Linked DNA regions of Homo sapiens. The protein of the gene in region 2 interacts with the protein of the main gene of each other region in a biochemical or structural test. Each region holds a gene or a part of one and is shown on either strand. Other genes may lie near its edges.

Region 1 (7,953 bases), on a different chromosome or scaffold from region 2:
ACTCAATAGCTATTATGAAAATTACTCAACATGTATCAGGCTTTGTCTTCTTGTGACACAAATCTCCACTCATGAATGTATCATAGTTTATTGCTCATGTAGTTAAGCCGTGAGCAGATGCTCTCCTCATGGGCTCACAGCAACAGCAACAACAATAACAAAAAAGTGTGGCTGCATCATTCTGCCTAGGAGAGATTCCCAGGGAAAGAAGAGTTATTATTGCTTCGAACATAGAACCCAGTTCTGGGCTTCAATTATATTTTCCCATCACTGTTTAAATCTTTCTTTGGTTGGTCCTATAAGAAATACCTTTTTGCAAAGCCAGTTGATAGTTTTAAAATCCAAAAGGAAAGAAAATGAAAAACTTTAATGAAACACAGGAGGAAAATACATGAAACTATTTAAAATAGCTCCCACCAACAAATATAATTCTCCAGAAATAATTTCCATCCTTGGAGACTTGAATAATATTTTAAACACTGGCTTTCCCATGTAAACACATCCATATTAGGATGTGTTTCTGAGTTCTGCTATACTTGCAAGGCAACTGCAGGAGCAGGCACACAGTTCAGACATCTGAGTTGGAGGCCAGCCCACCCTCCATGGTTGTCAGATATTGTAGCCCAACAATTTCTAACTGCTGATTTGAAAAGGAGAGACCACCACGATTCTCAAGTCAACGCAGGAACCCTGATCCAGGATTTCTTTCTTTCTTCCTGTTTTTCTCATTGCTCTGTCTACCTGGACCAATGTTTACATTCCTTTGCTTTTCTTATTCCATCCTCACTTACCCCTTCTGACATTTCTCACCTCTTCTCTCAGAGGCTACATCGCTAAGAATGAATACTTCAGCTCAGGTAATTTCTTTCTTCAGTTACTTTCTTTTTCTTAGCATGCAAGCCTCAAAAAATCCTCACTTGAATTACCTGTGATTGCCTTGTTTCTCTAGGCCTTTGGCCCTTTCTAGAGAAGTGTAAACTTTGCAGAGGGTAATGTAAATGAAGGATCGGCAGAGGCAGAAATGCAGGAGCTCCAGGGTAAAAATCTGTCTGTCTAGCTGGCTCCCGGTCCATGGAGATTAGGATCCTGCTGTGCTCACAGGCACCCCCACTGATTACAGCCTCTGCTTTTTTTAGGCTTTGTTTACATATTCCCATCTCTACCTATCCTGAAACTAAACTCATCCCTCTTCCCACACACCCCACTCCTCTAAGCAGTGAGCAGTGCACCCATATCCAATTCCAACATCAATTTCAACATCACTGCCAACTTTCATATTCCCATGTATGGAAGCATGGGTAGATGTCCCTAACCAATTCTGAAAGCTCCCATAGTTTACAAGCAAACAATCATTTAAGCAAATGTAGTCTTCTCTGAATTGCACCAATAGAACAAATATAGCAACAATTATTATTCAGTACTATCCCTGCTATATACAAAGAAATACGATCATAAGTGTTCTCCTGGAAGGAACAGAGGCCATTTAGGCTTTAAATTGTCCAAAAAGCAAAGAAAACCAGAAAAGCTGGTTTCTTGGCTAAAGATTTATTTATTCCTGTTTCAAGAACAAATACACAGCCCTGAAAGTTTCTGGGCAAGAGTCAATCTGCATATGGAATGGATAATTCAAGACCATTGTTCTTTCTAGATTATAAACCCCAGAAAGGTAGGCTTGAAATGTGTCTGAATGACCAGCCTCACTTCATGTACAGGTCAGGTGCCAGCACCGAGAGGGTGTTTTGGCAAATGCCGTGCACATGTGAGCCAGTGTGTGATTCTTCACACTTCTCCATCAGTACGGGCTCCTCTGTGCCGGGCACTGTGCTAGGGGCTGGAGAGAACAAGACCATTAAGATGCTGCCTTCAAGAAATCTACACTGAGCAGAGAAAGAGATGCATGTTCACATAAAAAAGCAGCCAAGCATTGCAGGTGCTAAGAGAGCAGTCTGGGATGTTAGAAGGACACGATAACTCTGAGCTGAGAGGAAGGAAGGTCAAGGATGGCTCCACAGACATGAGGACACACACAAGCTGAGGCTTACGGATGGAGAGGGTGCTGGCCAGGAGTGAGAGAGAGAGGAAGAGACAGGAACAGGAAGAAACACCAGTAGAACCCAAAGTGGTTCGCATGGCTACCTTGGGTGTGAGGCGGGGGAGCAGAGAGAAAAGGGAGAGAGGCAGACAGGAGCCAGGCCTTGGGGCTCATGTCATTCCAAAGAAGATCTGGGCTCTTTCTCCTGAAGGTGAGGGGTGGCACTGAGGATTTTAAGTGGGAGAGCAAGATGATCAGGTTTGGGTTCGCTCTGGAAGCAGAGCTGTGAGATGGCATGAGTGGGCCTCTTCCCCACTCCGGGTTACTCCTGGCCTCTCTCCATCCCCTTACTCACAGTGGCCAGGGGGCAACTGAGCAGGTGATGCACAGTTCCAGCCCGACCTCCTCTTCCCCCATCTCAAGGCAGCAGGCCTCTGCTCCACCCTCCCTCCCCGAGGCTTGCCTGACCCCTCCTCCCAGGGGACCACACTGGCCAGTGCTGCCAGCCACTCAGGGGGAGTCAGCCTCATGCTGGGGTTCAGTCTCAGCAGGCCCACCAACCTACAGAGACAGTCACTTCCTCCAACCTGGTCTTAGTAGTAATAAAGGTGATATCTAGCTCTGACTGTCACTTCTAGTTGTATTTCTCAGTTTGTTCAGATCCTGGGTGGGGAAAGAGGACTCTTGGGGAACTTAACATAAAACTGGATTGAAGGGATGTGAGACTGGAAATCAGGAGACCAGTCAGGAAGTTATTAGAAGATGACGGGTGCCCAGAAGAGGGCCAAGAGACACCAAGAGGGAGAGCGTGCTGTGGAGGAAGCAGGGCAGAGGCAGGGGACGCTGGGAGCTCCATCCATCCTGACTGCATCATGGACACACACGCTTCCCTGCCACGAGCTGCCTCTCTAAGATCACTGAACCGGGAAGCGCAAACACCACTTCAGCTTCTCTCTCCCTTGGTTCCTAGGACAGAATGAGCAAGCACAGCTGCTGTCAGCAGTGGCCTGTGTGTCTTACCCATGTATGGGGCAGGCCAGGCCGACTGGCCCCCTCCTCCATAGGGGTCCTGGGGCTTGGTACTCAGAGCACTCGTGTGAAGAGCAGAATCAGAATTGGTCCTAAGGAGGGGAGGAGAGAGGCTGGCTGAAAATCCGTTTTCCTTAGTGAAAATGCAATAGTCTTTGTTGAATATTACCAACAGGAAAGAAGGCAAGAATAACTGATTTATAATCAACCATCAAATAAGGGGTTAGGACCTACCTGAAGTTCTTTATATCAATTAACAGCCTCTGAGGATCGCCCACACTCCAGAATATTTTAACTTAGACTCATATAGCCTTATATGCTGAAGCTGATGGCATGGCGATCAAGTTCAACAAGGTGGGCCTCGGATTCATGGCTTCCGTCTAAGAGCTTCCTATTCTTCCCAGCTCGGAAGCTGGCTGTGGCCAGTTTAGCCTGTGGCTGCACTAGGTTTTCTCCACCTGAGAGTAGCTGTTTCTAAGTAAAGGATCACTTAGAGCAGTGGTTTGCAAAACCCTTCCAGGGAGAAGGTAAGATCAAGACTATTCTCAAAATGATAGTAAAGTGTCCTCTGTTTTTTCACTCTCGCTCTCTCCCAAGCACGGCGGGCTTCCCCAGCGGCCACGTGAGGTGTGATGCCCCCACCGCTGAGCGCAGGCACAGACCACCCAGCTGCCTTGGAGGGATTTGTAAAAGGTGAACATTGTCACTATTTTCAATACTTTTTTTGTGTTTCTTTTCAAAAAGATATAATTTATGTTAACATGTAATGGGCTTATTATTTTTTTAATTCACTAGTATCTTTAAAAAATCTCTCAGTTTAATTTCTAATATCAATAGATATTCTCACATAAACAAATACTCTTTGAGGGCCTCAATATTTTTTTTATTTTATTTTATTATTTTTTTCTGAGACAGAGTCTCGCTCTGTTGCCCAGGCTGGAGTGCAGTGGTGTGATCTCGGCTCACTGCAACATCTGCCTCCCGTGTTCAAGAAATTCTTCTCCCTCAGCCTCCCGTGTAGCTGGGATTATAGACGTGCGTCACCATGCCCAGCTAACTTTTGTATTTTTAGTAGAGACGGGGTTTCACCATGTTGGCCAGGCTGGTCTCGAACTCCCGACCTCGGGTGATCCACCTGCCTCAGCCTCCCAAAGTGCTGGGATTACAGGCATGAGCCACTGTGCCTGGCCTATTTTATTTTATTTTACTAGTGTTACTTTTTGAGATGGAATTTCACTCTTGTCGCCCAGGCTGCAGTACAGTGGTGTTCACTGCAACCTCTGCCTCCCGGGTTCAAGCGACTCTCTCGCCTCAGCCTCTCAAGTAGCTGGGATTACAGGAACCCGCTACCATGCCTGGCTAATTTCTGTATTTTTAGTAGAGACGGTGTTTCACCATGTTGGCCAGGCTGGTCTTGAACTCCTGACCTCAGGTGATTCGCCCGCCTTGGCCTCCCAAAATGCTGGGATGACAGGCATGAGCCACTGCGCCAGGCCTCCATGTTTTTTAAGGCTGTAAAGTAGTCCTAAAAGAAAATGTGGGAGCCACTAATGTATAGCAAATTTCTGAAATTCTCCCAGATAGCTTCAATGTCTACACAGCTTTGGTTGCAAGAGATGATTATCTATTTATCTCATCATAAGGTCAAACTGTCGGCCATAGAAAGGACTTTACGGTAAGCAACTTCATTAGCCTACAGTGCTTCTTTGTGGTTCATTCCAGTGACAGCCTCAGGTGGCTATGAAGCCACGTGGCTTCAGAGGAGGGAAGAGGCAGACAAGGGCAGAACCCACAGTGCAACAGAAAGAGCGTGGCCGCTGAGATCAGAGAGACCTGGGTTCAGATTCCAGCCTCTTTTTACAGATTCAAAGAGACTCAAGAGAATATCAAACGAATGCAGAGCCAACTGGGAAAATCTAAATACCGACCAGGCATTGAATTATATTAAGGAGTTATTTTTAATTTTGTTAAGTGTAATAGCGGCATTGTGGTTATGTTTTTTAAAAAAGGTTCTCGTCGGCCTTAAACTGCTGGAGACATTTCAAGGTACAATACTATACTAGCCAGTCACGGGACTGAGGTGGGAGGTAGGTTTGGAGAGACTGGCAGAATGCTGATAATGAGTGAAGCTGAGGATGGGCACCACAGGCCTTTTATAACTCTTCTGTTTGAGTATATTTAAAATTTTGCACCATTCATCGGGTTTCTTTTTTATTTTGAGACAGCGTCTCTCTCTTGCCCAGGCTGGAATGCAATGGCGCAAACATGGCTCACTGCAGCCTCAACCTCCTTGGGCTTAGGTGATCCTCCCCACCTCAGCCTCCTGAGTAGCTCGAACCACAGGCACGTGCCACCACGCCTTTTTTTTTTTCATAGAGACAGGGTCTCACCATCTTGCCCAGGCTGGCCTCAAACTGCTGGACTCACACGATCCTCTGGCCTCAGCCTCCCAAAGTGTTGGGACTATAGGCGTGAGCCACCATGCTCAGCTGCATTTTTTCAAATCCTAGTCCTTCACCTATTAGCTAAGGCCCTTAAACAAGTCACTTAACCTTTTAGAATGGAAAATAATACTCATTCTTGTAGGGTGTTGTCAGGATTGAAAAAAAATGGCTGAGGTAGAACTCTTACTCCTGGAGTCTGGCCCAAAGTGATCATGATAATAGCTGATGTTTATTCAGCACATATGCTTCCCAGGTATTATCTTATTCAACCCTCACAACCAACCCATGATCTAGGTAGCATTATCTCCATTTTTCAAATGAGTAAACTGAGGCAATCAGAAGTTTAAAAATCTACTCAAGGTCATACAGCAAGATGCAAACCCTGGGAGTCTCATCCCAGACCTCGTGTGCTCTATACTTTCCCCTGTAGACACTCAAAAAATGGTGGGTTTTGTTTTGAACATGTCATATCAACACAGCTTACATAAACACACTCTGGCAACTGGATGCTATGTAAAAAATATCAGGACAGTTAAATTGCTTTAAAATCTACTCCTACCAGGAAACAACCCATGTACCTGTTAAGTGCAGATGTCAGCCTGAACCCAGGATGCTTTTCGTCTTTCCAAGGAGGCTGCTGCCTTTAAAAACCAGAACAACATAAAAGGAAAAGAAGTCAATCCACAGACAGCAAAGGAGGGCCTCAGCACTTGCATTTGAGAACTGGCTCTTCTACTCACCTCGCTCTGCAAGAGTTACTTAAAAATACCCCACACCTCGCTCATTTTGCTCATCATTGTTAAAATGAGGTAAGACTCCATGATCCTTCCAGTCCTGTGATCTCTGATTTCCAGTATAAAAACTACTACAAACCCATAAGGCACAGGATTAGCTAGCTGGGCAGATGAGGAGTTCAGTGTGCATGTAGGGGGCGCCGTGGCAATCTTGGATGCAAAAATTTTGCATTCCCCTACCAATGGCCATGAAGAGGAATAGAATTGTTACAGTTGCCCAGGGTATGAAAATATTAAGTCTAACCAGTCCTGGTGCTCTGAAAAGCAGAAGACATTTCTTGGATACATAAAAGAAAAATAACAGTTTGGAGATGACTTTTACTGATGTAATAAAATATTGTATTTATTCTACAACCCTGGATCCCAAGATTCTTGAGGGCAGCTGAAAACCTACCTGAGGTGGGGACCCACTGTTACCCATCTTTATTTCCTTTCCCAGATCCAGACTACATTATACACAGTAAGTTCTCAGTCAGTATTTGCCCAGAGAATGGATGGAGAGTAGACTTCAATCCGGAGAGCTAAATATTTTTGATACACACATTTTAAATGTGTCCTAAATCTGACTTGGTGATCTGAAAATGATACTAGGCACACAACAGATGCAGCAGGGGCTTTTTCTCAGTTAATTCTATTTCCTGTTACCCTCTGTATTGGGTACAAAAATACTCAAAGAGACCTTAAATCAAATACACTGTGCAAATTACCATTTTAAGAGTCTTTTGTCCTTTTCAGCAGCTTACTAAGACACTCTGAGAAAAGATGCTTATTTTTCTTTCTTTTTTTTTTGAGATGGAGTCTCGCTCTGTCACCCAGGCTGGAGTGCAGTGGCGTGATCTCGGCTCACTGCAAGCTCCGCCTCCTGGGTTCACGCCATTCTCCTGCCTCAGCCTCCCGAGTAGCTGGGACTACAGGCGCCTGCCACCACGCCCGGCTACTTTTTTGTATTTTTAGTGGAGACGGGGTTTCACCGTGTTAGCGAGGATGGTCTCGATCTCCTGAGCTTGTGATCTGCCCGCCTTGGCCTCCCAAAGTGCTGGGATTACAGGCATGAGCCACCGTGCCTGGCCAAGATGCTTATTTTTCTAAGTCTCAAACATAAGAATGCCATATCTGAGTATTCTGCTGGTAAATATATTCCAAAAGTGTTTCTATTTGGTTTTAAATATGAAGATCTAGATTTCTTTAAATAACTTTTCATTTTAGACTTTCATATTAGCCTATCATTGGAAATGCTTAGGTGTTTGTTTTTGTTTTTTGAGATGGAGTCTCACTCTGTTACCAGGCTGGAGTGCTGTGGCGTGATCTCAGCTCACTGCAACCTCCGACTCTCTGGTTCAAGCAACTCTCCTGCTTCAGCCTCCCAAGTAGCTGGGATTACAGGCATGTGCTGTCATGCCCAGCTAATTTTTGTATTTTTAGTAGAGACGGGGTTTCATGATGTTGGCCAGGATGGTCTCAATCTCCTGACCTTGTGATCTGCCCGCCTCAGCCTCCCAAAGTGCTGGGATTACAGGCATGAGCCACCATGCCCGGCCAATAAGGTGTTTTGTTGTTGTTGTTGTTGTTGTTGTTGTTTTGTTTGTTTGTTTGTTTTTAAGAGATGGCGTCTTGCTATGCTGCCCAGGCTGGAGTGCAGTAGCTATTCACAGGC
Region 2 (7,860 bases):
CCGCTCCTTCCAGCCTCTGCCAGTGTGGGCCCTGCCGACTGCACCTTCCCACCGCTACCCAGAGACCAGCGGCTCACCCCGCAGGGAGGGAACTGTCAATGTTCTATAGCATGGGCTTAATTGGAATGGTTTGAGTGAAACCAAATTTCAGTCGAGATCCTGCTGCCAGCAAGCTGGATATAACAGTGGCCTTTCACTCAGGGCCTGGCACTGAAACAGGTCCAGGATGCAGGAGAGCAGCTTGGCACATGGTGCCTCCAGCACCCTGAGGGCGTGGAGCTGGGCCTCAAAAGGGTGCCCCGCCCATGTGAGGGAATGCACTGTGTGAGCGCACGTGCAGTGTCGAGGCCTTTGGCAGACCCCAGAGAAGATGTGACATCGTGACTAAGTAGCAGTGTCTTTTGCCTGGCAGCTCGCAGCACCTCCCCTCCCATTTCCAGCCCCTGCCCTGTAGCTGCCTGTCCTCGGGGACCCCTGCATCTGCCTCCCCTCCTCCTACCGCGGCATGAGGCCCTTGCCCAGGCTACCTGGGCTGATGCGCTTTGCCCTGGGACTCTGAGAATCAAGGAGCAGTAATTAAGCAGTGCCCAGCAGGGCCCTGTCCTTGTGCAGGCTGCGGTTAGCAGTGCTTCCGTCAGCGATCTGCAGCGGCTAACGTGTACTCGGGCGATTCAGAGCAAGGTATTATTTACCCTGCTGACGTCAATGAGAACATATTATCCACTGTCCTTTTCTGCAGCCTGAAATGAGCACCAGAACTCAGAGAACACAGCCACCTTCCATACTCTAAAAATTCCACCCAAGGCCCGATGAGGCAAAAACCCTATCGCATTAACCTGACATTCACATCACCCGGGCTCTTAGAAAAGAAGTTGTTTTTATTTTAATTCAAGAGGGTTGGAAACATAAAAACAGTACATTTTCCTTGCAGAAAATTACCCCATTTAAATTACTATTTGGTACAGAGATTATTTATTACACTGCATTTTAGGCAATTTTCTAACATTAAGTGACAAGTTATACTTTTGATTTTTTTTTTCACATTGGAGCTATTATGATTTGCACTCATAATACCAAAGCTACTGAACTCACCAATTTTTTTCTTAGTAATTAAAAAAAAGCACACAGAAAATATAACTACAGTTAGATTAACTTTATCAAAAGTAACTCTTTCAGACCAAACATCCAGCAAAACCACCCACCTCCCTTCAGATATAAGCAAATAATCTTGCCCTTTCTACAAAGTGCAGATATCTCTGTATCCCTTTTATTTCTCAAACTGCAGTCCCCGAAGTGAAGCAAACCTTTCTCTCCACTTCTTTCCCCTTCAGAGATTTTGGTGAAGGCAGGTTTCTCTTACCACCCATGGTGGAAAGGTCTCACCACTTGAATTTCCTTGACTGAGCAAATCTTCTGCAGACAGACACCACAGAGCCAGCAGCAGCCCATTATCTGCACTGGGGAATGTGACATTATTCCATCTGGGGTCATATGTTTCCAGGATGTTGTTTTGTACTTCTATTTTTAAAGCTCCCCTCTACCCACCCACTTTGCCTCTGAAAAGACAGAGTATTAAGTCAAAGTCTGTTATTACTTTTTTAATCCTAAAAGTAATAAGCACTTCTAGTTGATGGGGCTTGACTGTAAGGAAATGTTACGCCCCTCGTTGAGACAAAGGCTGAGTTCATGACCGTTCCTGGGGTGGAATCTGCTGGCCTGCAGTGGTGGCCTGATGCCGTGCGATGCGGCCCCTTGGCAATTGAGGAAGGGGGTGTTCTGTAGGAAACTGCTGTATTGTAACTTGGAAAAACTAGACATCTTTGAGGTGAGCCTAAACTTCTGCAGTTAACTGGACGCTGAAAGGCAGGCGGGTCTGCGGGGTTTTTGTCTCCCTCAGCCTGGTTCAGTGCACGGCCACCTGGACAGCTGCACTGTCACCTGAAGGCGGCCTCTTCCCCAAAGCCAGGCGGCTGTTGAGTGGAGAATAAGGTTGTGGGAACAATATCACATTCACCCTGTGCTTGACCAAAATGGGGGCTTTGTTTATACAGCTGTTTGCTTATGAAAAGAGTCAGATGCTACTGAGGAAAGAGAAGGGAAAGAGAGGGCTTCTTCCAGCACTAGAAGCCAGAGAACCAAAACCAGAAGCCAGTCAACCCAAGCGCGTGTCCCAGCTCCTTCTATCACCAGCTGTGATCTCAGAGAAGTCACAAACTTCCCAAAGCTTTGGTTTCTTCAGCTGTGAAAAATAAGGACAGTATCTCCCCAGCTAATTTCATAGAATTGTTGTGAGGGTTAGAAGAGAAAGTGCTTGGTAAAACTAATGTACAAATATAAGCTATTGCTCCCTTGTGGGTGGGCGAGCAGAGTATCTGGGCAGAACCCATCACAGCTCTCCCTGGGTGGGTCTGCGAGCACTGCTGCCGCCTGGTTCTCTATCTGTGCCCCAGTGTGTGCCTGAGTCTGCTGATAGGTTGAAACCTGCCTGGAGAAGATGTGGACACAAGGTGGGGGTGCACGTAGGATGGCTGTCTTCTAGAATCAGCTAGGCTACCTTAATTAGGACAAAAATGGTAAAATAAGAATGTGAGAGGCTACTGGAAGGTGAGAGGCTCCACTGCTTTCGTTCACCTGCCACCAAGGGCCAGACAAGGGCTCTGACATTACAGGTGCTTCAGACCACACTGTAGAACCTGTCAGAAGGGAGATGATAGAAACTTTAAGAAAATCTCTTTGTCCAGTTTAGAAACAGAGGCAGATGATACTGCTCTTGTCTTTTTTTTTTTTTTTGAGGTGGAGTCTTGCTCTGTCGCCCAGGCTGGAGTGCAGTGGCACGATCTTGGCTCACTGCAAGCTCCACCTCCCGGGTTCACGCCATTCTCCTGCCTCAGCCTCCCGAGTAGCTGGAACTACAGGCGCCCACCACCACGCCCGGCTAATTTTTTGTATTTTTAGTAGAGACGGCGTTTCACTGTGTTAGGATGGTCTCAATCTCCTGACCTCGTGATCCGCCTGCCTTGGCCTCCCAAAGTGTTGGGATTACAGGCGTGAGCCACCGCGCCCGGCTGATACTGCTCTTGTCTTTCATACATTGCTCTGAAGATAAGTTCTATAAAAAAATTCCAGGTCGGGTGTGGTGGCTCACACCTGTAATCCCAGTACTTTGGGAGGCCAAGGTGGGTGGGTCACCTGAGGTCAGGAGTTCAAGATCAGCCTGGACAACATGGTGAAACCCCATCTCTACTAAAAATATACAAACTAGCTGGATGCGGTAGCACACACCTGTAGTCCCAGCTACTTGGGAGGCTGAGGCAGGAGAATGGCTTGAACCCAGGAGGTGGAGGTTGCAGTGAGCTGAAATCACGCCACTGCATTCCAGCCTGGGTGACAGAGCGAGACTCTGTCTCAAAAAAAAAAAAAATTAAATAAATTCCAGAAGCAACAAAATGATCAAAGATCCCTGCCTGTACAATGACTCCAACTTACGAGCTTCCCTGTTCTCCAATTTTCACCTTTCATGTTTAGGCACAAAGAGACCGAGTGGCTCGGGTGGCTTCCCAGGAGGCAGTTAGAGGCAGCCCAGTTTAGGAGTTTGAGTGTAGCAGGTCAGCCCTGGCACCGGTGTCAGCCACTGTTCACAGGGACTGAGACTGTGAAATGACACACTGCATATTGTCTCTATAGGAGGTCGAATGGGAAAAAGTTACCTGGAGTATGAATTTTCTTTAAACCAATAGGGAGCTTAAATGTGACTGTTGATACAGGTTTTAAAATGTAATACAAACATATTTACGAACCTGGGGCTTGACTAGAGGCTGGAGGACCCCAAAAAGGAGCGCCACTCACTCACTGTGTCCTTGCATCCTCAACTGCCCGCATGTCTCCAGAGGCTGCTTAGTGCCCACACGCCTGGGACCAACTGTGACTCCAGGCTGCTGCTTGTCACCTTGCCTTAGTTTCTGGCTGATCACCTAATCACTCTGGAGCTGAGAATATCCTTCTCCCCACATCTAACCCGTGGGCAGAATTCTGTGAGCGTTTCCCTGCCTTTAGGACTGATGACACTCGGTGTGTGGGTGGAGGTGGGGGAGTCGTCAGTCTTATGATGAGTCTCTTCTGCTGGAGACTTTGGTCCACGAGAGAGGGTAGGGGGCAGGGGAGAGGCCGATACTCCTACAGGGGGGGTCCCCCCTTGCTCCCCATCAAAATGCAGAGCACCCCATTACTCCAGCACCAGAGTTGGGAAGGGACACAAGAGGCAAGGGCTGGCTTCAGTCTTGGGCTCCTGTCTGTCCCAACCACTGACTCCAGCATACGGTTTAAACACTTGGGAGTTCTTGATATCTGAGGAAGAAAGGGCCACTGACTTTTTCTTTCCTAGGAGGCAAAAGTGGATGGAAGAGAGAAGGGGTTTGCTCAGATGGGCATGAACAGCCCCTGAGCCCCATCCCCACTCCCCTGGTGGGCCCTGATGCTCTCCCACGCAGGGATTCTCAAGGTGGATGGTGTAGAGAACCATCAGCCTCCTTTTCCCACGGTGACAGAAGGCAGTGCAGGCAGAGGTGGCGAGGGGGCAGCTGGGGACGGTCAGTGTCACCGGGAATGTGAAAGTGGGCCCCCTCTTCCTGTCGGGCTAACATGCTGTTTGCCTTACAGGGACCAGTGTATCAGTTGCGTGGAGATACTAGAGACACACTTGCCCAGCTGGGAATTGCAGAGCTAGTGCATTTCTCCCAAAGCACAGACTAATACCCCAGATTTAAAAAAAGAACATAAAAAATAAAGTACCACACATATTGCACTTTTTGCCGAACGAAATTTTTACCTCACGTTCATCTCACCAAAGTCTCTTCAGAGGAGCCTGGTTTACAGGGTGATGAAGCTGATGATGATACAGTAGTGTACACACTGCTAACGTGAATCAGACTGGAAAGCAAGTCAGTACTTCAGAGTAGCCCCGCAGAAAAAGAGCGATACTAAGCCTTCTTAGTGTTTTGTTTGTTAGTAGTGATGAAGAGAAAACTGCTTGGAAGCTTCCATGGGTCACTAGTTAGGGACAGAGCAGCACAGGTGATCAGACAGGGCTGAGCAAACACCTGACTGACCAACAGAACCAGTCTCCTCAGCAGCTTACATTGCAGTCAATACAGAGGGTTATGGAATTTATTGATTTCTGCTTGAAATAAACAAGATAAGCAAATAGGAGCTTACAACACAGGTCCCAGCAGGAGGGGTCACGCTCTGCATCAGGCCGGTGTCCACGCCGCTGCCGTGTGTGACGGATCCTGATAGGCCTGGCTGCTGTAGGGCACCTCTCGATTTCTCTCTGGGTCCTTAACCTTCCAGTAGCCTCTCTGCAGTCCCTCATCGGCTGGCCTAACCGTCCTGCCATAGCTCCCAGGTCTCCTGGGCTAAGCAGCTCATGGCATTGTTGGGGGGCAGGAGTTTATGTCGATCTGTAACTACACCATTCCTGCAGTTCTGAAATGAGTGGCCCCCATTTTCAATCTGCAGGCATTTTAATATCGCAAATATTGTAGCACTTCTGTAGTATATTTTGGGAAAACGTCTTCCTTCAGTCTAAACAAATCAAGCCCCATTTTATAACTGGCTATTTTGTAAAGACTCAAAACAGATTAGAGATCTTAATGAAATGATCTCTTAAATGAAATGATGTTCTTTATTTCACGAAATCATCAATCTTAAGCACGAGCAGGAATAAACAACTCCCAGAAGAAGCTTAATTCATTCTTCCTGGATTTTCACTGTGTGTTATTAAATCACAAAAATGACAGTCCCCACACTGCCCTTTCCCACTGACACCAAGTCCAACCGTGAGCACAGTGCCTCTGCGAAGCATCCTGGCACCCATGGTGAGCGCTGGCGACCAGGCAGTCTCTGGCCAGCAACAGGGACTGCTCAAGTTACCGACGTTGGTAGGAGCTGGGCTCGCATGGCCAGAATGGAACCCCCTAGACTTTCCACACGTCACCTGCCTGAACGCTAACTACAAAGAGGAAAGGCAACTTAAAGGTGTTTTCTAGATGCAGCATCAGTTAGTCCCTCTCTTTGTGCTTTAAGGAAGATGCTTTGTGCTTAACACATTCATCTGCTGATGGGACAAGCCATTCTAAAGGGCAGAAATGATCATCTTTAGAATTAACACTGACTTTGTAACACCTGGATGTTAACTGTCCAAATGGCAAATTATTCATCATTTCTAGGGATACAGTTAGCTAGCTGTAGCATCTAATTTTTACTTACTTTGATGACTGAATTGTAAGTGTTGGTTAAGTTTTATTAGTAATATAATGTTTGGCAGATGATCTGCTTAAATGGTTAACACATCTGTGGTTCTTTCTTTGAATATTGCTGTAATACTTGAACATTTCATTACAAGTCAAAACTTTAACGAAATTAAGAATGCTGATTCCCACATGGTGGAAAACAAACTCTGAAGTGACTTTGGATTTAGCATTGACATAAATGGAAACTGTTGGTTTCTACAGAAAAGAAAGAATTAAAGCATGATCTGGGGGAAAGGCACCGCACTACCACTTCACATGGGACAGAAAAGTTCATTTATCATGTCCTTAAAATCTCTAAGCCCTATATGAAACTGTCCAAATATACAAAGCTCAATAAACTACTAGCAACATATAGTGTAAGGTCAAAGTAGTTATTACATCGGAAAAGAGACAACAGGTACCCTGGAGACCGACTGCCCGCAAGCCAGCAGTGTCCACGAGAAACTGCAGGAAGAGCCTGTCTTCCCTGGCCCAGGGCTGGTGCTCTTGATGCGTTCTTGAGTTTCTTGCCCCCTGCCTCCACGGTGGCGGGTCTCCTGTCAGTTCCACGTGTGACACCTCTGGAGTCCTGAGTATATTCTGACACTCGGCAACCCAGGGCACCTTCTGAAGGGGTGTGTCACCTGCTTCCGAATGGAGATGAAGGCGGTTTCTGGGGTCAGTACCAGCTGTTATTTAGTGGCCCCTGAAACACAGCTCATGCCCCACTGCTTTGTGATGGCCTTGGGGGACAACTTGCATCAGCAGCTAAGAACTTAGGATTCAATGACAAAGCACAGCTTTCCTTTATTTCCTGTGCATCTGATTTCCTGATGTCTTCTTGATTTGCCTTGTAGCAATATGTGGTTGCTCAGCTTCAGTGAAAAATATATTGCCTTTTCCCCCATATATATGCAATAGCACACACCCTTTCTGCTTTCACCAAGGTTGCCCTTGATAATAAACGGATGTAATCCTGCATAACACCTGGGTCTGAATGTCTTCTTAGGAACACATTTGTCAGTGCTGCCCTCGAGAGCTTGCTCCACTCGACCGAAGGGCAGGAGCCTCAGCCTACAACTATGTTCCAGCACTTGCCACAGAAAACTTTGTGGTGGGGCAGAACCAGGAGGAAGCAACATCCACCCCAGCCAGACCCTCTGATTCCAGTTGGGTGGCTCGATTTCTCCCCGTTAGGGAGAGGGCAAGAAAATAAGCTTTAAATTTAAAAGGCTGGAATAAAAATAGGAACATACACTCTTCCTTCACCTGACCCACCTCAATTCCTGTGCTGAGACTAATTCACCAGGACATACCCGTTGTGTTGTGGATCCACAGCGTCTAGCATTTCACAATCAAAGAGTCCAGGTAGCTCAGAGAGGGCTAGTGGGTCGTAGCTGGAGGGGGCCTCTTGCAGTCCTGGGCTTCTGGGACAGTCTGGCCCCGTTAGGTCGCTCTGCTGGGCTCCATCCACAGGATACTGACAGGGAGTGGGATAGTCTGGCGCAGGGGAAGCAGCGCTTGGCAGCTCACAAGTCTGATAGGAGAACTGTAAGGGGGCTGGGGCAGCTCC
Region 3 (5,298 bases), on a different chromosome or scaffold from region 2:
CTGATCTCATGATACACCCACCTCAGCCTCCCAAAGTGCTAGGATTATAGGGGTGAGTTACCATGCCCAGCCCATAGAAAGTTTTTTTAGAGAGAGAAACTGAGGCAGAGGGTTGACGGCATGGAATCATGAGCTTCCTGCCCCGAGTGCCTTTTTGTGCCCAGAGTTAAAAATCCATGAATAGCTAAAGAAAGAAAATCTAAAACCTTCCTCTCAAATCTCTAACAAGGGCCATGCGGCCCCAGTGTTTACACTGAGTTATCAGAGCACTCTCAACTTCCTGTATGCTGAGAAGGGACTTCTGAGGAGGACAGTGGGCTCTGGGCTTCCAAGGCCTGGAGCTGTTATCCTCACTAAACAGCTGTGGTCTTTCTTGTCCCTGCTCTAAAGACATTCTCTTTTGGAGGGGACATTCCTGCCAGGACTCCCATCCAGCTCTCAGCAGGAAGAAGTTTCCCATCCTGAAAAACTCAACAGAAACTAAAAAACTGACCCTCTGCTACGGGGTTCCCGAGCATTTGTAGCCTTTCAGAGTTTGACCTTGATTCAGCGGATAAGACAGGGCTGGCCAAGGCCAGCTTTTTACTGCCTACCCATCATCTTTATGCAAGTTCAGGAGACAAAGGGCTTTAGGTGTTACAGGGCCATGGAGGGGCTTGCCCCACACTGAGCCCCTGCTGAAAGCAGAACAAGAAATGAGGTGGCTGGGCATGGATTGAAATGACAAACTGTAACTCTTCTACAAATGTAGAGGTTTATTTCAACAAAATGTGTAAAGAGTGCATCTGAAGCTCCTGCTCATCACAGTATGTGTCCATCAAATTCTGAGACAAGTGAAGGCTGTTTTGTGAACGAAGAGAACAGATAATATGGCGGTCTCCGTCCAAGCAGGTCTTGGTCAATATCCATCATTTATACTCCTCCTGCCTTAGTAGCCTTGCATGTTTGAGGGGCTGTGGGAATGTCAGATTGCTCATGTTCTGTGCCTCCAACTTGAAAAAATCCTTGTCCAGGGTAAGACCTACAGTAAGGAGCTCTGGGGATGGGGGAGGAGGCATTACAGGGTTCTAGAGAGGAAACATACTCGTTTGTGTCATAATTTGGTGGGGAGAGGGGAGGTAAATGAGTGTAACCCACCCTGCCTCTGAAGACATGCCTGGACAGGCCTCCTGGGGGGTGCAGGACTTCATACCACTTGTAGATATGTGGGATTTGATTTATTGCAAAAAAGCATAGAAGAATAATCTGGTCAAAAATGAATCCAATTCTTACTAGGTAAGCAAATAGCCAGCAATGGTCAATGCATTTTCCTGGACTGAGAATTGTCCCCCACCACTTTATGCCCTTTTCTGAAGGTGCTGAACACCTGTACCTTCCACCAGGGCAGCCGGGCTGAGGCTCTGACTCCTGGGGGCTGTCCGCTCCATACCCAGCCATACAGTGCCCACCTGCAACCCAGAACCATTGAAAAGTCCAGCCAATCTATCCGCACAGATTCCTCCTGAAGAAGGGGAGGTGGAGCTCGTTCTTGTGTGCAAACTACAGGGTTAAGGCTCAGAACTGTGGCTTGTCCAAGAACGTTCATACCACTGCTTCTCAAATGTCTTAGTGATTTCCTCCTTGGTCATCAGTGACAAATGCAGTTAGCTGCACTAAAGGAACCGGATGCTACACCAGCCCTGATCACCTGCCACTCTTGCTTTAGGAACAGAGGAATCAGTAAGTTCTTTTCTTGAATAAACTAGTTGTTGAAAGTAAACTCTCTCCACCACCTGAGGAAGCCCCTGATGCCAGTCAGGAGGGGCCAGTAAGCCTGGAGGACAGCAGCACCATGACTGAGTTGTAAATAATCTTAAGGTCATGTGGATTCTGTGTTTCCTGGAAGCCTCCCTCATCAGGAAGGCCAGCTCCTGGTGCTGAGGGTGTAGCTGTCACCAGGGTCCTTTCAGAGCTGTGGGGAGACCTGCTGCCTGTCTACACTCTGGGGAAGAGAGTAGAACCGTTAGCTGCTAGGACAGTAATCCTGGAACTAGGGAAGAGTGAGTGTGGAGGCACCATTAACCTCTCAAAACCATCCAAGCTCCAGGCTTCATAGGAACAACTTTCCAAGTCCTCAAAACAAACAGACTATCTATCTATCTCACTGGCTCTCCACATGGCATAAATAACTAGTTTCCACCAGTGCAGAAAGGGCAGTTCTCTTCTGGCTCCTCCTCTGCCAACTCAGGCTTCACCACCTGTGGAACTGCTGGGGCCCCTCAAGCACTGGCCTTGCAGCTCCCAGCCACATGCGACAGCTAGTCCAGCAGTGACGTGCAGGCGAGAGGCAGGCCAACAACTACCTTTCCCTTTGTCCTCAGAGACTGAACCCAAGGTTGAGGTCCCCTAAATCAAGAATAACTGGTTCTATTTTCTTTCTCTGCTTCTTGGCTCACAGTTTTGCCCTCATCTTTGAGTTCCTATGGAGCTTGTAGTAGATTTTATGCTCTAATTTTTCTTCATAAAAGGTACCGTAGTGTGGTTAAACTGGGAATCATTCCTCTCCAGTGCCTACTGTGTGCTGGGCTAAGAGTCGGGGTAATAAACAATGGACTTGAGGCTTCCTCCTCTCCTTAGCCCTCCTCTGCTGCCTGTGGCTGCGGCTCATGGGGCCAGGAGTGAGGGGGGCTGCTCACTGCTGGGCAACTCCTCACGCTTCCCCATGCTGGGAGGCCAAGGGGCTGTCAGGACAGGAGGGGCAGCCCTACTTTGGTTAGTAAGACCTCATGGTACATGTTTGTACCTTTCATTGCCTTCTCAGTCCTGTGCAGGGAGTGGAGGACTAGGCCTGGCCAGGGTAATAAATACTGAATGGGGTAGGTGTGACTGGTGGGCTGGAGGGGGATTCTGTGATCTTACATCCCAGGATGTCATGCATAACCTGAAACGAGAGGAAGTAAAATGCCATTTGACTCCAGTGCTGGGTCTCCTGTGCCTTCTCATTACAGTGGTTACAGTTGTAAAAGGCAGCTCTAGCCCTTTTCTCCAGAGACAGGGCAGGGACAGGCAGGAAGCTCTTCCTACGTGGAAGGGGAATCCATTGTGGAGAGGATCCGTATGACTTCTGCTCGCTGAGTGGGTGATATGTGCTGCGTCATATGGATGATGGAATCCATGGCAACCTCTGGATTGGCCTGGACCAAGCTGGAAAGGAAGATTGAGAATGGTGAAGAAAAGAGAAGCAGAAGTGTCTAGATGAGGACAGCTAAAGAACTGCCCAATAAACATGTGTGCACCGTCCACTGCAGACATTTTAGTCACGCCTCACCTTATTTGTTTCCCTATATTACAAATATCCAGCCAAGGTAGTGCAAGACAAACCCAAAACATTTTGCTATGTTGAAAAAGGAATTAAACCCAAAACAAAACCCAAAAAAAACCCAAAACATGCCAATGGGGGCATGTCACAAAGACAGCAATTGGGGCATCAAAAGCAGCCCAGCAATGAATTATAAATCAGTAAAAAATAGAACTTCATGAGTCTGTACCAATAATGTATATATAAAAGAATCGGCAGGAGTGAGGACTGAGTGGTGACTGGTAATTGTGGAGGGTGTGCTGGAGTTGGAAAGTTATCATTTTGCAAGCTCATCGTAAAGACTGCACCAGAGGGAAATTTTGATGAAAGCAAGATACTTGCATGGCCTTAAAATGTCTTCCTGCAGACTACTTATTAGGTGCAAGGGGGGAAAATCAGTAATTATACGGTAGAGAAATGGAGCAACATCTTGACCAGCGGATGAAATTAACACGAGGAGGAGCAGATAAACAGCATGTGCCCCCAGATGTGGTGCCCTGTGAAGGTTCTGGCCAGAGTGCCTCACCTGCATCTCATCATGGGGAGACATCAGACAAACTCAAAATGAGCAATGTTCTACAGATGGTAGATATCAGATAAAAGTTTTTAATCAATGTTAAATTTACAAAAGTGGATCATTTTATGATGGTTATGTAAAAGTATCCCTATTCTCAGCAAATGCACACTGAAATATTTGGGGGTAAAGGCCATGATATATGTAACACCCTTAAGTAGTTCAGAAAGAGGAAAAATGTATACACATATGGGAGGGCAGGCACACTCATAAGTGATATAGCAACGGGGAGAAAATGTAACAGGTAAATCTGAGTACAGATATTATATATAGGGGTGTTCTTTGTACTGTTTTTAATTTTATAACTTTTCTGTAAGTGAAATGTTTCCAAATAAACTTTTACAAAAATGCCCCTGCAGTCTCTACCACCGATCCTATGGAGCAGACTGAAGCCTCTAGAAGAATACAGCTAACTCTTGGCTTCAGGAGGTGAGGAGGTGGTTTCCCAGGAAACCACCACACACACAATCAGCTTTCCTCCCAGAGTTGTTCATCCGGTTTGAGTATCAGCATTCAGAGCTAAGAGGTGGGCACAGTGAATTAAGCCTTCATCTAGCTGAGATTACTAAGTGCCCCTGGGGAGCAGTAGCTGAAAAAGAATTGGGCTTCAGGCCATATCTGTACCTGTGGGTCAACTACAGCTGTCTCAAACAGCAAGAGACTGCAGAGATCATAAGATTTCTGCGATCATCTCATGATTTGTTTGGAAACTTTTTATTCCAAAGAAATTAGCCCTCCTTCTCTAGTGGAGTTCCCCACGTTGGTCTCACCTGCGGATTTGCTTGAGGACGTAGTCTCTGCTGATGCATTTGATGTTTTCCTCTATTACCGAGTGAACACCATCCTCCTCTGTCAGCTGTTTCTCTAGCCACTCCGCCAGATCCTTATTATTGTCCCAAACATAAGCCTGCAAACAGATGACTCTTGGTCAAACACCAGGGGTCAGGCCAGGCCGGGACACCCTGACTATTCAGGATCTGGAGTGCTTGCTTACTCCAAAAGTGTGCTCCGTGTCCACGATTCTCCTTCACTGTCAGCATCGTGCAGGAGGAGGAAGTAGGCCTCGAGGCAGGAGCTGTGCCCCTTCTCCTTCTCTTCCTTTATGGACACAGGTGTACACCTGAAGTCTCCATGGGGCTCTCCCGAGCACTCTGGTGCTCATACCCTGACTCTGTCCTGTCAGACTCTAGGGACCCACCTATTTGACAAAGGCTAAGAGAATTCAATAACCTGACAGGTTTGAGAGAACCAGTTAAAAGCCCAAATTACTTAGTAAAATTGTGATTGAGAAGGCAAGGCTGTTTATTTGGTGTTTTGCTCTCAGAGGAGCTGAGACACAATGCCTAAAGTATAAGTCTCTAGCCTCAGTGAGGCCTGGCAGTCACTG
Region 4 (7,953 bases), on a different chromosome or scaffold from region 2:
GTGAGGACCCCATGTCCTGTAAACTTTTCCAAGACCCCTCAATCTCCTACTCATTAGTGAATGTGTCACTTCCTCCTTCCATTTCCCATCACCACCCACCCCCATTCACCTGTGAGGATGATGTTAGGCCCTGAGCCATGGCGGGAACAGTGGGTCAAGTTCTGGTGGTTGAAGGTGTGGGGATCCTGGGGGCCACCCATTGGCCCCTCACCCCCTAAAAATCCAGGCCCTTCAGAAAAGCCAGGGGGATCCAGCACCAGGCTGGCTGATGGGCTCTCCATGCTGAACTGCTCCAGCTATAGACATACAGACAAATCTTTAGGAAGTAGGATTTAGAACTGGTGTCCTGCCTAGCCCTGCTAACATATCCCCTTTGCCCAGCAACCTTCATCCACCCCAGGAACAGAGGCAATGACAGAGGGAGGTGGCAGCAAGCAGAGCGACAGAAGCGAGCACGGGGCCCGAAGTAAGTATGGGCACCGTACCTGCTGGGCCAGAGCATGTGCATGCCAGGAAGAGAACGGGTCAAGGCAGAAGTCATCAAAGAGCAAGCTGAGCAGAAATAGAGGGGCAGGAGTAGGGTCAAACGCAGGAAGAGAGGAGCCCCAAGCTGGCAGTGCTATGTTACCTCCGGGGAGAGGAGATCTCCCCACCACCCACCCCACCTAGATCTCCCCATTCACAGTGCACCAGCCATGCCATTCAGGCCCCATTGACCCACCCTCACCCACTCCCCTGCTTTTGAGCAAGGAGCCTGAGTACTCACATTCCCCAGGTTGAAGTCACTCATTGGCCGGTGGTAAGACTGTTGCCCATGCCCACTGGGCCCAGGTGGGTACGGTGTCCCATAATGAGACTGCCTGCCTGGGGGCTGCCCACCTGAGGACTGCACTGAACAAGACTGAGAGGGCAGCCCTGGCTGCTGTAGAGACTTTGGGGTGTGGGGCTGGGTAGGCAGAACCAGACTTGGGGAGCTGTATGGGTATGGGGGTAACCGCTGGTCAGTGGACAGTTTACTGGTATCCAGGGGGACGCCCTGAAAAGAAGTAAAAAGAGGGAAGCTTACTGCTCAGTGTATACCCCAAGAACTCTCAGTCAGAGCTTCCCACCTTCTTTAGCTACAACCATTCCCAAAACAAACATGACAACATTCCACATTCTCACGGGCATCCCTGGGGTTGAGTGCAGTTACTCAACCCCAGGGATGTGTATTAGTTGGCAGGGTGTGGTGGCTCATGCCTGTAATCCCAGCACTTTGGGAGGCCCAAGGCAGGTGGATCACCTGAGGTCAGGAGTTCGAGACCAGCCTGGCCAACATGGTGAAACCCCGTCTCTACTAAAAATATAAAAATTAGCTGGGCATGGTAGCAGGCGTCTGTAGTCCCAGCTATTCGGGTGGCTGAGACAGGAGAATTGCTTGAACCCAGGAAGTGGGAGGTTGCAGTGAGCCAAGATCACACCACTGCACTTCAGCCTGGGCAACAGAGCGAGACTCCGTCTCCAAAAAAAAAAAAGTGCCTATCAGAATGAAAGTGATATAGTGAGGCTAACACAGGGGTAATTTTAAATCTACTCCAGAAGTAAACTATTCTCTTTTTTTGAGACAGGGCCTCACTCTGTTGCCCAGGCTGGAGTACAGTGGTGCAATCATAGTTGGAACTGTAGCATCAACCTTCCTGGTTCAAGTGATCCTCCCATCTCAGCCTCCCCAGTAGCCAGGACTACAAGCGTGCGCGACTGCACCTGGGTAATTTTTTATTTGTTGTAGAGACTGGGTCTCACCATATTGACCAGGCTAGTTTTGAACTCCCGCCTTGGCCTCCCAAAGTGCTGGGATTACAGGCATAAGCCACTGTGCCTAGCCTTAGAAGTAAACCATTCTTAAATCTTGATACTTGAACTATTTATTGTTAGTAAATAAGGAACTAAGGTTGAGAACTGCTGTTCTACAGCCTTGAAGAGGCCAGAGGGGGTGGGAAAAGAAAGAAAGAAAAGGAGAAAGAAAGGAAGGGAAGTCAAGCTCACTCCACACTCTGGGAACAGAGCCCTTGCTAATCTGGCCTCAGTCTTTCCTACAAAAGAGGGGACCTGAGTAAAGATGGAACACAGAACACACATTCCAGGGATAGCAATGGAGGAGGAAAAGTTGGGCAGAGGAGAGGGAAAAGAGCATTTGGATGAAAGAAAAGAGGAGTAGAGATAGAGAACAAGAAGAAAAGGACAGGAAGGGAGACAAGGGCTAAGAATTTCATCTCTGTGGAAAAAGCCCTAAACTAAGAGCTTCGAGTTCTAGTCTCAACTCTTCCTAACTTGCTGGGTAAACTTGGAAAAGTCACTTTCCCTCTAGGTCCCACTTTCCTCATCTATTAAGTGAAGGAATTGGGCTCCACAGTAGGAAATTGACTGATTCTACGAATTCTATGAAATTAGGAGGGGATACAGGGGAGGAGACGGGACAAGATAGAGGCATGAGATAAAAGACAGATATAAAACAGACAGGAACAGAGGAGGCAAATAAAAGGAAAGGGTAAGCTACTATTTGTCAAGCATACCTGGGCTATGTGTGGTGCTAAGTATTTTATGTATGTTACTTCATTTGATCCTTATGAACCATCCTTGTTTTAGAAATGAAAATACTGAGGCTTATAGAAATTAAATAACTTGTCCAAGGTGACTGCTAGTAAGAGGTGGAGCCAGGGTTTGAAGCTAAAAAAGCTTAACCACAGCGTTTGGGTTTGCACTGTGAAGCAAGAGGAGACAAGATGGATAAAAGATGGGGCAGGCGGAGGACAGAGGAATGGAAGGGGATGAGTATAGAGTAGGTATTTCAGGAAAGGAGGGTGGGAGGGAAACAACATGGCAGGAGAAAAGGGAAGGGAGACAGACATGCAGGGAAGGCAGCCACGCATACCTGAGTGATGGAAGACAAGGTGGGTGACATTGTTGGCGAAAACTGTTTGGGCAGCTGCTGTTGGGACCTTCTGGCGTCGGCTGGGCCCGCGAGCAAACTCAGGGGGCTGAGGGGCACACGGCGGTGGTGGGGGGAGGCCCCAGGGGTAGAAGCAGGGTAAGAGGGGGCGCCCAAAACAGGAGATGAAGTGGAGGAGGAGGAAGAGGAGGAGGAGAGAGCCGGAGCACTGAGTGAGGGGTGGCCCAGGGAGGTGGTGGGCAGTACATGGCGGGCCAAGGAGGAGGCAGGCAGAGAGGGGTGGCTGTGGGAGCCCTGAAGCTGGGGCTGAGGACTGCTCAGGGAAGCCTGGAGGTTGGGATTGCTTAGGGAGGACTGCAGGGATGGGTGGCTGAGAGGTGAATGAAGTCCTGCAGGCACAGACAAAAAACCAGAGATGCCAACATTACTGATGGGAACTGAGCCCCTTTCCACCCAGAATGGGTGGCAGTGACCAGACTATGAAAGCGGCAACACAACGTCCTCCCTACTCTATCCCTGACAGCACTGCCCATCTGGGGACTGCCCTTCCTCTTCTTTCTAGGAAACACCACACCTACCAGTTATCACTGGCTGAGAACTGCCGTGAGGGAATCCTGGGGTGCAGAGGTGACAGGCGGTGTGGGTGATCACAGCAGGATCTCAGGTGCTCAAACCTACCTCCCCTTCATCCCTCCAGTCAGGCAGCACCCAGTGGGCACATGGCCAGGACAGTCACTCACCTGGTGCATCATAGCCTGGGCCCAGGCCCATGCCCCTGCTGATGCCCAGGTGAGTCATGGTGTGGGTCAAATTGGAGGTACTGTTGCCCCCACTCAGGCTAGGGTAGGCTGTCTCTTCAGGGTCCAGGGGGGTGGGCAGTGGTGGGGGAAAGTGCAGGTTGGTGAGGTCAGGTAGGGAGCCCCCCGTGTTCATGGCAGGTGGGAGGACAGGCACATTGGCAGGCTGGTCAGGAGATGGAAAGATGCTAGGGGAAGGAGAGAAAAAGAAAGATGTAAATAGGAGGGTGGGTGCAGTGGTCAGGGAAGAGCAGAGATCAGTCTCCTACATCTCCCTGTACTTCCTTCCCCCACCTCTCAGCCAACCTCAGGGAGTACTTACTTAATTCCAGGGACTTCACAGGACCGAGGTCGGGAAGAGGATGAGGATAGCTGAGGAGAGAAGGGAGAATATGGAAAATGAGGACAGTGCTCAGCAGAGAACCCTGGAAGGCCTGCCCCATGGCAAGGGGATAGCAGAGAGACTAGTGGGTGACACCCGGTGGCCTCCTCCTACCTTCTTAGCATCCCATGGCTTCAGCAAATGCTTGTCATCTAGCAAGTTCTCCTCAATAGCAGGTACTTGAAAGAGAAAGACTGGTGATGGGAGAGTTGGAGAAAGAGCCAGTAAGGCAGGACAGGAAGCAGAAGCAGGTGGGAAGGAGTCCTGCTCCCTGAACCTGCACACAATCCCAACACCAGCCCAGAAATTCTTTGGCATTCAGTACCCACAGCAGTGAGGAACACATACCTTTGGGGTCCATTTCACCATCCAGAATACCTGCAAGGGATACAGTGGCATTGGCTGCAGTGCTCACTTGCCTACCTGCTTTAAATAGCTCCATGGAGGCCGGGTATGGTGGCTCATGCCTGTAATCCCAGCACTTTGGGAGGCCGAGGCAGGTGGATCACGAGGTCAGGAGTTCAAGACCAGCCTGGCCAAGATGGTGAAACCCCATCTCTACTAAAAACACAAAAAATTAGCCAGGCACAGTGGCAGATGCCTGTAATCCCAGCTACTCAGGAGGCTGAGGCAGGAGAATCGCTTGAACTCGGAGGGCGGAGGTTGCAGTGAGCCGAGATCACGCCACTGCACTCCAGCCTAGGCGACAGAGTGAGACTCCGTCTCAAAAAAGAAAGAAATAATAAATAAATAAATAAATAAATAAATAGCTCCATGGTTACTCCCAACCCTGGGACAGGGCCACTTACCCCCACGTCGGCTGGGCAGGATGCTGGGAGGTGTGGGGCCTGGGTAGGTATCCTGGGGACTGGGGTTCATCACACTTGTATGAAGGGCAGAGTCAGAGCTTGTCCTATGGGGGGAGCAGGAATGAGCTGACACCAGTGACAGTCTTCCTGGTCCCTAAGCCCTGCCCAGCAAGGGAAAACACTAGCTGGTCTGGAACAGGGTGGGGGTGAGGGAGCAGGGCCCCAGAAACTACAGATAAGAGATCTGGCCTAAAGAAGGCAAAAGCCATCACCTGTTAAGTGCAGATGGTAGTCGAAACAACTGCCCCTTCTCTGCAGGGAAATTGCCCCAGGCCATCGTCCTGGGGTAGAAAAACAAAGTCATGAGGAGGAAGGCTGGCAGTGGACAAGAAGGTGGGCATAGGGGTTGGAAAATGTGGGGCAGCTAAGGTGGAAGTAAAGATGGCTGAGCACCCAGATCATCCCCTTTTCTTTCTGGTTCTTCTCCTGCCTATGATTGACCCCTCCCCCAGTCAATCTAAGAGAGCTGGAAACTTCTCTCTGCCAGGACCAGCTGAATGGGAATCTTGGAGCCCAGCAGCATTCCTGGGTATGAGCATTGAAAGTGAGATGGACAAGGGGAGAGTTTAAGAAATCTAAAAGTGCCAGAACACTACATCTTGCACCCACCCTTGACAGAAGGTTGCCATTTTCACCTGCCCCTCTGCCATTCTCCCCTCCCCCTTACACACACACCCCAGCCTGGCTATGGTTCCCATTGGTTCTGCTCTGGCTGGACTGGGAGGCTTGACCACTAGTGTCAACATGGCCAAGGCTGGACTCTGACCCACCTACTCCAACTGTCTCCACCTCTCTCAGCCCTGGCGTTATAGGAAGAGGTACTGTTGAAACCTTAGCCCAGTAATCCCAGCCCCAACCCAGAAGGGGCAACTCCTTCCAGAAACACGTCAGAGAGTAGGCAGGAGCTTCTGCCCGCCCTGGACACTTACCTTCGCCAGCTAGACTCTGGGGGAGGAGATAAGTAGGCAGGACTATAGGGAGAGCTGTCAATGTGAACAGCACCAGTTAAGGAAAAAAGTAGAGAGGACAGATGAGAGAGGCCAAATGAGGAAAGAACAATGAAGGCAGCAGATAAGTTGTTTCAAGAAACTCATACCTTTCTCCTCTTCTATAAGGGACAACAATAGGATCAAAGAATGGAAGAGAAAAAGGGAATCAGGTCTAAAGGGGCTGAAAAAATCCAGGAGAATGTTCAGGCAGGGCTTGGAGGAGACAGTTATGCAGGTCTCTGAGACTGAAAACTTAGAAATCTGAGAAGAGACCCAATCTCCTTTAGCAGGAGACAAGGAAGGCTTGCCTCTGGCAGCAAGCTGATGTGAAGACAGCCAGAGCCAGCCAGAGACAGGGGGCACAGCCTCAGGAGCAAAACTCCTTGTCACAGGAGCAGGTGCTGACGCAGGGGCTATGGTCGCTTTTCAGGGAAGCTGGGTAAAGAAGAGCTCCAAGAGAAGGAAGGGACGCACAACACTTCAAGTGCTTCCTATGAGTCCCTGAGGAACCCCATCCCACTACCTTTCAGACACTCCCAAGTCCCCTGTGAAGGATATGTGGCGGGTGTATCGGCGAAGTGGGGACACCATTCTTCGAGGATCTCGCTGCACCCGTTCCACCAGCCCATGGTGCCGAGTGCTCCGAGATGAATCCAAAGGTGAGTGGAGGGGGCTCTGCCAAAAAGGACAGAAGTCAGCAGAGGAAGCAGCCTAAGAAACTCCACTCCTCCCTGGCTGGGGTCTACTCACCTGGAACTCGGCCAGGCCAGAGCCAATCTGGTTAACATTGGGCAGAGACCCACCATAATGAGAGCTCCTTGTGTATGCCAGTCGCAGTTTTTGGGCCTGTAACTGAGACATGGGGAACAAGTGGGAATGTCAGGAGGGTCCTGAGCACTATTTCCTTCAGCCATCCTTGCCATCTCTGTCACCAGGATATGCTGCTGCCGCCACTGCTTTTAAAATATCTAGGCCAGGCACAGTAGCTCACACCTGTAATCCCAGCACTTTGGGAGGCCGAGGCAGGCGGATCACAAGGTCAGGAGATCGACACCATCCTGGCTAACACCGTGAAACCCTGTCTCTACTAAAAATACAAAAAATTAGCCGGGCGTGGTGGCGGGCGCCTGTAGTCCCAGTTACTCGGGAGGCTGAGGCAGGAGAATGGCGTGAACCTGGGAGGTGGAGGTTGCAGTAAGCCGAGACTGTGCCACTGCACTGCAGCCTGGGCAACAGAGAGAGACTCTGTCTCAAAAAAAAAAAAAAAAAAAAAGGATCACTTCAGCCCAGGAAGTAGAGGCTGCAGTGAGACATGTTTATGTCACTCCACTCTAGCCGCCTGGGTGACAGACTGAGATCCTGTCTCCAAAAAAAAAAAAGTTAAAAAAAAAATAAAGAAATTATCTGCCAGAAAAAAAAGGCCAGTGTTGGGGTTTGAAAGGTCCACCGAGATTTGGTGCAAATAACCCACCAGAGCCCATCTGCAGACTGCCCTCATCAATGATATCACTACTGCTTGACATCATCCTGCCAGGCAGAGACAGATACTCTGCTGAGGGCCTGTCTCATTTGGCATCACTCTAAGCAGAGTCCCTGAGGGGCTGCCAGGAGCTCCCGGGCTACTCACAAGGGGGAGTGCCTATTAGGAACCTCTGCTTTCTTTCCAGATGCGTCCAGGACTAATTGAGAGATTAAGAGGAAGGCCACAGGTGGATGTCACAGAGCCATTACTGCCAGCCTCTTTCCTTCCCACTCTGGAGAGCACAGGCTTCTGGGCTCTGCCACTTGCCCAGCCTCAGGAAGGCTACACAAAGCCTGCACCTCCCAAACTAGAACATCCAAGGAATAGCAGCTCTCCTAGCTGGAAAAACAGCACCAAAACCAAGGGACATTCTTCCACTGAATCCTAAGGCTCTTGAATTGGCAGGGAAGCCTGGAGAAGGAGGGTGGACAGAGAGCAGCAGCCCACTCCAGCATGGGCCAGGGC

The links.
Region 1: of the proteins of SIK2 (region 2) and CRTC3, one has a biochemical effect on the other in vitro, tested with the Homo sapiens proteins (one study listed by BioGRID).
Region 3: of the proteins of SIK2 (region 2) and ACACA, one has a biochemical effect on the other in vitro, tested with the Homo sapiens proteins (one study listed by IntAct).
Region 4: of the proteins of SIK2 (region 2) and CRTC2, one has a biochemical effect on the other in vitro, tested with the Homo sapiens proteins (2 studies listed by BioGRID).

What each region holds. Positions count from the first base shown.
Region 1 is NC_000015.10:90,602,578-90,610,530, reverse strand, and holds part of CRTC3 (CREB-regulated transcription coactivator 3), read right to left. Parts: intron 6,147-7,953; coding exon 6,084-6,146; intron 3,154-6,083; coding exon 3,053-3,153; intron 1-3,052. UniProt on the Homo sapiens protein: Transcriptional coactivator for CREB1 which activates transcription through both consensus and variant cAMP response element (CRE) sites.
Region 2 is NC_000011.10:111,723,854-111,731,713, reverse strand, and holds the end of SIK2 (serine/threonine-protein kinase SIK2), read right to left. Parts: coding exon 7,585-7,860; 3' UTR 4,750-7,584; coding exon of another isoform or gene 4,657-4,749; 3' UTR 3,662-4,656; coding exon of another isoform or gene 3,504-3,661; 3' UTR 859-3,503; downstream 1-858. Other genes in the region: PPP2R1B (serine/threonine-protein phosphatase 2A 65 kDa regulatory subunit A beta isoform), read left to right, coding at 3,504-3,661. UniProt on the Homo sapiens protein: Serine/threonine-protein kinase that plays a role in many biological processes such as fatty acid oxidation, autophagy, immune response or glucose metabolism.
Region 3 is NC_000017.11:37,084,257-37,089,554, forward strand, and holds the end of ACACA (acetyl-CoA carboxylase 1), read right to left. Parts: intron 4,819-5,298; coding exon 4,682-4,818; intron 3,184-4,681; coding exon 3,060-3,183; 3' UTR 736-3,059; downstream 1-735. UniProt on the Homo sapiens protein: Cytosolic enzyme that catalyzes the carboxylation of acetyl-CoA to malonyl-CoA, the first and rate-limiting step of de novo fatty acid biosynthesis.
Region 4 is NC_000001.11:153,948,349-153,956,301, forward strand, and holds part of CRTC2 (CREB-regulated transcription coactivator 2), read right to left. Parts: intron 6,819-7,953; coding exon 6,717-6,818; intron 6,642-6,716; coding exon 6,525-6,641; intron 5,969-6,524; coding exon 5,907-5,968; intron 5,259-5,906; coding exon 5,190-5,258; intron 5,022-5,189; coding exon 4,918-5,021; intron 4,625-4,917; exon of another isoform or gene 4,551-4,624; coding exon of another isoform or gene 4,532-4,550; intron 4,487-4,531; coding exon 4,457-4,486; intron 4,303-4,456; coding exon of another isoform or gene 4,288-4,302; coding exon 4,223-4,287; intron 4,099-4,222; coding exon 4,049-4,098; intron 3,915-4,048; coding exon 3,670-3,914; intron 3,319-3,669; coding exon 2,912-3,318; intron 1,037-2,911; coding exon 767-1,036; intron 553-766; exon of another isoform or gene 486-552; intron 297-485; coding exon 110-296; intron 1-109. UniProt on the Homo sapiens protein: Transcriptional coactivator for CREB1 which activates transcription through both consensus and variant cAMP response element (CRE) sites.